2 separate regions of the Homo sapiens genome follow, and region 1 is linked to region 2. Evidence: fine-mapped QTL for protein levels in blood plasma. A gene starts in region 2. The other region holds a variant in brackets. All regions are shown on one strand. Distances are between the middles of the regions.

Region 1 (4,405 bases), 31 kb after region 2:
ACAAAGTGAGTCCCTGCCTTCATCAGTTGATAATTTTAGAAGTAGGAAATAAGGACATAGACATCTCCAGTCACTGCAGAGACAACCTTTCCTTAGGATCATAAAAATGATTCATAAAATGATACAGTGTAACACCAAAGGGCGGAAATGCTGTCTTACGACTTTCTAAAGGAACACAGTGTGACTTTAAGTTAGAGGAAATTTCAGAAAACACCATTTCATGCTGCTCATATGAAGTGTCCATCTTTATCACTGCAGCATTGGTGGCCAGTGGCAAAGGCAGTGGGGGCTGATGAGGCAATGGCAGCCATGGGAGGCATCCGGGGAGCCCAAAACAGAAACTCATTTGTGAGACCTGGAACTATTGGCAGTGTGCTCACAGAGTTCCCAGGCATCAGAGTCCTTAGCATCCCAGAGCTGTGAAAGAGGCTGGAGTAGAGAGTAACAAAAGGGGATATGCTACAGAGGAGATGAAAGTTCTGTTAGTATGCATGCAAAAAGTCTCTATGAGCCAAAGGATACCCAGTACTAATTGACTGAAAGTTTAGACTTTCTGTCCCTTTCAATAGTAGGTAGAGGGGAAAACTATATAAGTGTGTGTATGTATGTGGCACACAAATCCAAACACATCCACATATAAAAACAATGAGAATGATCTTAAACCCCATGGTATTGAGAAATATGATTGTATAAGATACCCCTAATTTACATGTTAAAATTTTAATGCCATTGGATATTGATTTATTTCAAATTAAGTAGATTTCTTTTTTAAGTTAAGTATGTAAGATATTCAAGAGTAAGAGGTACTAATGATACTCAATACATTTTAATTTTCTTCTCTGCTTCCCCTTAGCACTGCAGAAGTTAATTAGAAAACATACTGTATCCCAGGGGCCATGCTGAATTCCTTATATAGTCGGTCCTCCATATCTGTGAGTTCTACGTCCATGGATTCAACTAACCACTGATCATCAAAAATAGTAGGAAAAAAGTACTATACAGATGGTTGCATATGTATTGAACATGCACAGACTTTTTCTTGTCATTATTCCCTAAAAAATACAATATAACAATTGTTTGTATAGGATTTAAATTGTATCTGGTATTATAAGCAATCTAGAGATGTTTTAAAGTATGTGGGAGGGTGTGTGTAGGTCATAACAAATGCTACACCATTTTATATAAAGGACTTGAGCTTCAGTGGATTTTCGTATCTTCAAAGGGTCTTAGAATAAATCCCCCATTGCTACTGAGGGACGATTATATTCATTTTTGCACTTTATCCTCCCAATATTCCTTTCTCTTTATTTTACGGATGAGGAAACAAGGATAGGAAGATTAAGTACTTTGCCCAGATACAATCAGCCAAGGAACATCAAAGCATGTACTCAGTACAGATATAGTAGGACTCAAAGTCTTATACTTTTAAGCACTACCACAATTCTGCTTCCTGATGAAAACTAAAATTAGCTCATAGCTTGAATGAAAAATATATTCAAACTGGACATTTAATTTGAAAATAAATATTTCCTTTATATAAAGCTCTTAGGTAGATTACTTGTTCTGTATTCATGAAAATGTGTTCACTTTTGACAATGTGACATTTAAAACCTTTAGTTCAATGGTAGTCAGGCTTAGAATATGTCTTTATAAATTACATAGTGACTTAGTCCTATCAACTTCTATATATATATATATATATATATATATATTTTTTTTTTTTTTTTTTTTTTTTTTTTTTTTGAAATGGAGTCTCACTCTGCTGCCCAGGCTGGAGTGCAGTGGCATGATCTCGGCTCACTGCAACCTCCATCCCGCCAGTTCAAGTGATTCTCCTGCCTCAG[C/T]CTCCCAAGTAGTTGGGATTACAGGCGCCTGCCACCGTGCCCGGCTAATTTTTGTATTTTTAGTAGAGGCGAGGTTTCACCATCTTGGTCTTGAACTGCTGACCTCGTGATCTGCCTGCCTCAGCCTCCCAAAGTGCTGGGATTACAGGCATGAGCCACTGCGCCCGGCTGTTTCTATTATATTAAAAACCCATAATTATAAAAATGGTGACAAGAAATGGATTAAACCTTGAAGGGTCCTGGTTGGGTGAACATGAAGGAGCCCTTTAGAGTGCTATTTACATAGGTATACACATGTTTAGAAATTAAATGAGCTATGCAATTAAGATTTTGTGTGCTGTATTGTATACACTGCATGTCTCTATTTATTTATTTATTTATTTATTTATTTATTTATTTATTTTGAGATGGAGTTTCACTCATGTCGCCCAGGCTGGAGTGCAATGGCGTGATCTCAGCTCTCTACAACCTCTGCCTTCCGGGTTCAAGCAATTCTCCTGCCTTAGCCTCCAGATTAGCTGGGATTACAGGCACATGCCACCATGCCCAGCTAATTTTTGTTTTTTAATAGAGATGGGGTTTCGCCATGTTGGCCAGGCTGGTTCTGAACTCTTGACCTCAGGTGATCCCCCCTTTTCGGCCTCACAAAGTGCTGAGATTACAGGTGTGAGCCACTGTGCCTGGTAACCTCAACTTGAAACAGGAAGAAAAGAAGGGAGGAAGGGAGGAAGGGATGGAGGGAAGGAGGGAAAGGAGGAAGAGAAGGAGAGAGGGCAGGAATGAGGGAAGGGAGGGAGGAAGGAAGGAAAAAGAAGGAAGAAAAAAGAAAGAAAAAGAAAGAGAAAAAGAAAGAGAAAAAAGAAAAAGAAAGAGAAAGAGACAGAAAGAGAGAGAAGAAAGAAAGAAAAGAAAGAAAGAAGAAAGAAAGAAAGAAAGAAAGAAAGAAAGAAAGAAAGAAAGAAAGAAAGAAAGAAAAAGAAAGAAAGAAAAAGAAAGAAAGAGAAAGATGGAGGGAAGGAGGGAGGTGGGAAGGAAGGAGAAGGAGGAAGAGGAGGAACAGGAGGAATAGGAGGAGGAGGAGGGAGGGAGGGAGGGATGGGGAAGAAGGAAGGAAGAAAGGGAAAGAGAGAAAGAAAATAAATAGATAACTAGAGTATGTTATATGGTTGCTAGAACTAAATCAGGTGTTCAGTTTGGACATGTTGAAAGTGTAGGCATAGAGAAGACAGTTGAATATATAAGGAGGGATTTAGTCTAAAATGGAGATAAAGATTTGAAAATCATCTTTGTATAGACGGCACCTAAAGCCACAATACCACCTGAGATTCCTGGGAAGTAAGTGAAACAATATGCTAAATCCCAGAATTTAAAAAAGTTTGTGAAAATAAGAGCAAAGGTCCACCAAAAGTGTCAAAAACAAGAAGATGAGGAAAGGATGAAATAGTATAGTATAGATGCCAGAGAGACAGATGATTATTTAACTTTTATTTTTTATTACTTTATTTCACGGAGATGGATCTTTAAACTCTACAGCCTGGCACAATTATCTGAAGGAGAAAAAGAATGATCTAACCTGTGAGGACATAGTAAATAATTATTTAAATGCTTGGGGGATATTAAAAAACATTTCAAGGTGATCATGAGATCACTGTCAGTTAACAAGGAATAATGACAAGGAGGAAAGCAACATATTGATTAACATATGACAAATGGAAAGGGCAAAAAAAAATCTTGAAGCTGGGCATGGTGGTGTGCACTTGGAATCCAAGCTACTTAGGAGGCTGAGATAGGAGGATTGCTTGAACTCAGTAGTTTGAGGCCAGCCTGGGAAAAAAATAAAAGAAAACTTTGGCATTAATCTATGAGAAATTCCTCCAATTTAAAGTGATTTCATCATTTTTAAACCATGATATTATATGTAAAACAGTAAAATATAATTTTTAAATTTGCTACACTAAATTTGTTTCTTTTTGATAGTTTATAAATATAAATCAAAATTGATTCTGTTTTATAAATCTATATGTTATTGCCCACATTTAATCTAAAGTTTCAGCAGAATTCATTAAGTACTTTGTTCAAATGTGGGTCTATATACTAATATTATTATGGATATCTTAATCTAGTTGAAAAAATGCTTAATCTAGTTGAAAAATTACTACAGGGCTTAGTAACCAAAACAGCATGATACTGGTAAGTACAAAAACAGATAAACAGACCAGTGGAACAGAATAGAGAACCCAGAATTAAGACAGCACACCTACAACTATCTGATCTCTGAGAAATCTGACAAAAACAAGCAATGGGGAAAGGACTCCCTATTCAATAAATGGTGCTGGGGTAACTGACTAACCACATGTAGAAGATTAAAACTGGACCCCTTCATTAGACCATATATAAAAATTAACTCAAGATGGATTAAACACTTAAATGTAAAACCCAAAACTATAAAAACTCTGGAAGACAACTTAGGAAATACCATTTAGGGCATAGGCATGGGCAAAGATTTCATAATGAAGATGCCAAAAGCAATTGCAACAAAAACATAAATTAACAAATGGGAT
Region 2 (4,405 bases):
AATACAGTGTACCAGGGAAACTATTATTATGACTATCGGGAGGATAATACCAAGAGTTTGGAGTATGCTCTTTACCCAGGTTACCCATAAACCAAACCACCTAAAATTAAATAGATCAAAAAATGAGCTAAAGAGTCTACTTACTTAACTAAGCAATCTCTTCATTTATCCTCTACAGCTAAATCTCTATAGTCTTCATCTGATGTATTTCTCCATAGGCCACAAGTGCCAGCAGCTGCACAGATACTTCTCTATTCAGCCAATTCTATCATAATTTTCACAAGAGAATTTAAAGTCTGGTATTTAACTATATCCTATACAGTAGAATCTGCTATAGAGCCTACTATGAGGAATGCATTTCTAATCATTGCTTCTTTTACTCCAAACCATAGAAAAAGGAACTAACAAATGATGCCCTTCTAGAAAAGCAAAGGACTCCTGGCAATGTTCTTAGAAGTACCTGTACTATTCCTCTCAGTAATGGAGATCTACTTTCCATGTGCTCTCCAACACATTCAGGCACCAAACTTACAAGTCTTCTATTCTGGATTTGCCCTTCATACAAAATCTATCAACACTTTTTAAAAATCTCTTCATATTCCACCCTTTTGTCCTATTTCTACTACTACAAAATTAATCTGGGGAATTGTTACCACACTTATTTTTGCTGCCATCAATTTCTCAGCTCTGTAAATCACCCCATGCAGTGAGATCAGGTGGCTTTTATGAAACATTCTTTTGATCAAAGAATTTCCCAACCCTCCAAAATGTCAATGAAATTACTTTCCCATGTTATACAGAGAAGCAAATCTCCTTAGACTTCTATACAAAGTTTCCCCAACCTTTTCAACAGTCTTTCTGTCTTGAATATGCCTTGTGATATAATGATTTATCTGCTTTTGTTCTTCAACTCTTTCTCCCTTCAAATCAAGCCATACGCATTATTCAATAACAGTTCAAATGTCAAAACTTTCCTAGGTTTTACCCAGATCATATCAACTCACAGAACTCTCAATTACTGTATATATTTTTGGTCGCCCTACTTAGCATTAAACTACACTACCTAATAGTATTCTTTACTTATTCATATACATACTCCTTTCTCTCATAGTACTATGAGTCTTAGAAGAAAGAGATTTTATGTCCTTTTTTCTGTATTTTCTAAGAATCTATGTCGGGTCAATATTTACTCACTTAACAAATATTTACAAACTACCACCTATATTTGGTATTGTGTTAGTTTTGGAGATACAGCAATAATCAAGACAGACATAGCCAATTTCTGAAATTCAGGTTCACCAACAATATCTGGCACCACAGCGCTCAAGTTGCTCTCATTCTGATATCATCAATGTGAATATGGGAACAAGTAATAATTACAGGAATGACTCTTCTCCAAAAATGAAAAATAAGATATTCACAGTAAATGATAGACTATTATAGTGCTGAGAATGAATTGTTCGGCACTAGAAAGAAAGAACAAATAGGTAGGCAGAGATTTTGTGCATATAGGTATTTGAAATGTCCAATTAATAACTTAAGCAAGATATGGTGAAAACATGAATATAGAAGTGAGGGACAGATTGAGGACTAGATTTCATAAATATTTAGAAAGGCAAACTGTCAGTAATGAATTTTGATATTGGATGTAGATATAAGCGTTAAGCAGTCTAAATTCCAAAATTTTTAGTCAGTGCTGCATGAACTGAAATAAGCAGCAAAAGAAAACTAAAACAATGTCTGTGTGCTGATCCCTTGAAATTACCTTGTAACACTGCCAAAGGAAAATGGCACTGAGCACCAAGTTTGTTATAGTTTCAGTTGTGCCCAAGTGAGTCTCCAGAGTTGGTGAAATCTCAAGCCTCTTATTGCATGGCTTACAGAGAACCAAGGTATGACGGATATTAATCCTTGGCTTGACATCTTTTGACCCATCTCTCTTCCTCTAGGTCATAAGCGAATTCACTCCTTTTCGCTTTGAAAACAACTGTGAATAGAAGAAAATGCACCTATTACTCATCCGCCTTCTGAGAGAGAAAACATGTCTTTAACCCATGCTTGATACGTATGCTAAACTTGCAGCCAGTAGCCTTGGGTCAGGAGTTCTGCGTATTTTCATAAGAGTTGTTCCTGTTACTCTTCGTGAATTTTCTCACCATAAAACTGTTGCCAACGGGGAAGAGGGACAAGAACATGAAGTGTTTATGAGGGAGCCTGAAACTGACAACCTGTGTAACTGGAGTGCGTCGTTGGCATGACACTGGCAGCGCACTGCAAACTTAAGCACCTGTGGACTCCTAATTAGCTCTTTAAATTGAACTACATTAATTCAGGCATTCTTGTTTGAATGCGAACGCCTCCTTTTTCAAGCCACCCCCTGGGCAACCCGAATCCTTATATGACCTCCCTCCTCCTCCTAGTACGGCGCAGGTATGCGAACAGACATTTTCTTTCCTCATCAACTGGTGGTAATGAGAAAAAGAGAACTCTGCTTTTCACAAGGGAAAACGTGCAAGATTTTCTCCGTAGTAGGGGAGGCGGGGGCGATGGGAGGAGAGCAGCTCACGTAGGCAGATAGCGGCGATGAAAGCATAAAGCCCAGTGACGTCGCCCACACGTGGCGCCTGGCAAGTGAACAATCGCGGTGAGAGGGGCGCGCCGCAGCTCCTCAACGCCGCAACGCGCCGGCCCAACTGCAGGAAGGTCTGTGCTCTGGAGCCAGGGTAAATGTAAGACCCGGATTGGAGACTAGAAATGGCTAGGGACGGGGAGGTGGGGTGAAGCACAGGGGAGAGAACCATCGTTGAGGTGAGGGGGTTTCTGATCCTCCTTCGCTCCTCTTCCGGCATCTGGAGGGCACATAGCTAATGCCGGGCAGACTGAGAGTTCAATTTTGTTGCTTAGCGCCGACCTACCATAACTTTCAACATGCTTCTCTATGTTTAGTCTATTGAAACTCTTTACCTACCTTAAAAGAGAAATCATTCTAAGTACATAAGACCCATTGAATCATAGTAGAAGCCTGAAGTCATTTCTCAATCTGCTTTTTACGAAGTCAAATTAAGACTCTTAGTTTCTAATTGATGTTTTGAATGTACAGTTATTAGAAACTGTAATAACAATTAGAGTTGGGGTCATTGACTCTGCTGGACTTTATATCATCTATTGGCTTCCAGAATTTAAAAAAAAAATGAAGAGACAAAGCTGTTACCCCCAAATCCACGTAGTTAATACTTACCATGTGGGACACTGCTTATGGAAATGATCTTTTAAAGAATGGGTTGAAGTCCTAGATAAGGGGTTGGGAGTCTTGAAAAAAGGTTGCAATTTTCCAAGCAAGTTAGCCAACTAGTAGTTACTGAACTTCAAGAAGTCCACTTTTTTGTTAGTGTTTGAAGGAAATATCAGGGCGTTGAAATACAATCTGACCTCAGAAGGACAATATGGTCTTAACGCTGAAATCAAATAAATACAGTAAATTATTAGAAACAATACTAAACAATTGAGTCAAAATTTAAGTTTGTGACAAAGATTATAGATACCATCTATAAGGGTATTCTTCACATCTTTATTTTAAATATTTTGTTTCCTTGTTCTAGGGTTATAAAATTATACACCATGGCCCTCCTAAAGACACTCTAGGAAAACCATGTCATCCTGATCTTAAAACACCTGCAAGAAAGAGCACAGTACTTCACCATTAGTAAGTAGCAAAGAAAAAAAATGGTAGCCAACTTTTCAACTATATATCAATATGGGTTTAAAGGAATAAAATGTAATTATATGGAATAGAAAAAAATATTTTTCCTTGAATATACTCTCACCAACAGTGACATTGCTTTCATTGACTCAATGAAGATGAGTATAGGTTAGATGGTTGAGGTTATGAGAGAGAAGAGCAGCAAAGAGGAGAGTATGGCATCATGGCCTATTATAGAATTCTGGCTCATCAGATGCATACACTGGGTGATTGAGCTATACAAAACTCTTCAGGCTCCTGTGTATGGCTTTCAATGAGCTGATGAGGATACAACAGCCCAGATGTTAGAGCATTTTCCTAAAGTCAGCCAGAAGGTGTCTAATAGAACCAGGCCTTGAACATGTGAATCTCGAATTAGATTATACTGATTGTATTTTCCTATAACACCTGGAAGGAAACACATGTCTCTTAAACACTTAGTAATTAGCAATTCAATCAAACAGCATATGTTTATAGAAAGCTCTTATGAGCTCAACAAACTAGCAGACATTGCAAAAGATAATAAAAACATGAATAATTTCCGTTTATTTGTATTATGTGCATAATGTGTTTATTGTATTAGAGGTGTTACATACATTGTCCCTTCCAGTCTTCAAAGCAAAAACCTGTGATATAAAAATCTACATTTTACATAAGAAAAACACT

Direction of the effects. Positions count from the first base shown, and alleles are read on the strand shown. Strength reflects both the effect of a copy and how common the allele is.
For the plasma level of the protein whose gene starts at base 2,661 in region 2, allele T in region 1 goes with a higher level than allele C (moderate association).

Evidence for each region. PIP is the posterior inclusion probability: the model's chance that the variant is causal. The UK Biobank Pharma Proteomics Project read protein levels with antibody pairs (Olink). The fine-mapping took linkage between variants from a reference panel, not from the people measured, so its PIPs are less certain.
Region 1: its variant is fine-mapped to the plasma level of the CRISP2 protein (UK Biobank, PIP above 0.99).

Annotation. Positions count from the first base shown.
Region 1 is chr6:49,681,002-49,685,406 of GRCh38, reverse strand. It overlaps a transcript of CRISP2 not described here. Among named protein-coding and RNA genes, the nearest start is that of CRISP2, 30 kb to the left of the region's middle. The variant C/T (reference allele first, on the strand shown) is at 1,845.
Region 2 is chr6:49,711,799-49,716,203 of GRCh38, reverse strand. It overlaps CRISP2 (cysteine rich secretory protein 2), which reads left to right and starts at 2,661. Exons shown (of 10, transcript NM_003296.4): 1 at 2,661-2,729; 2 at 3,600-3,703.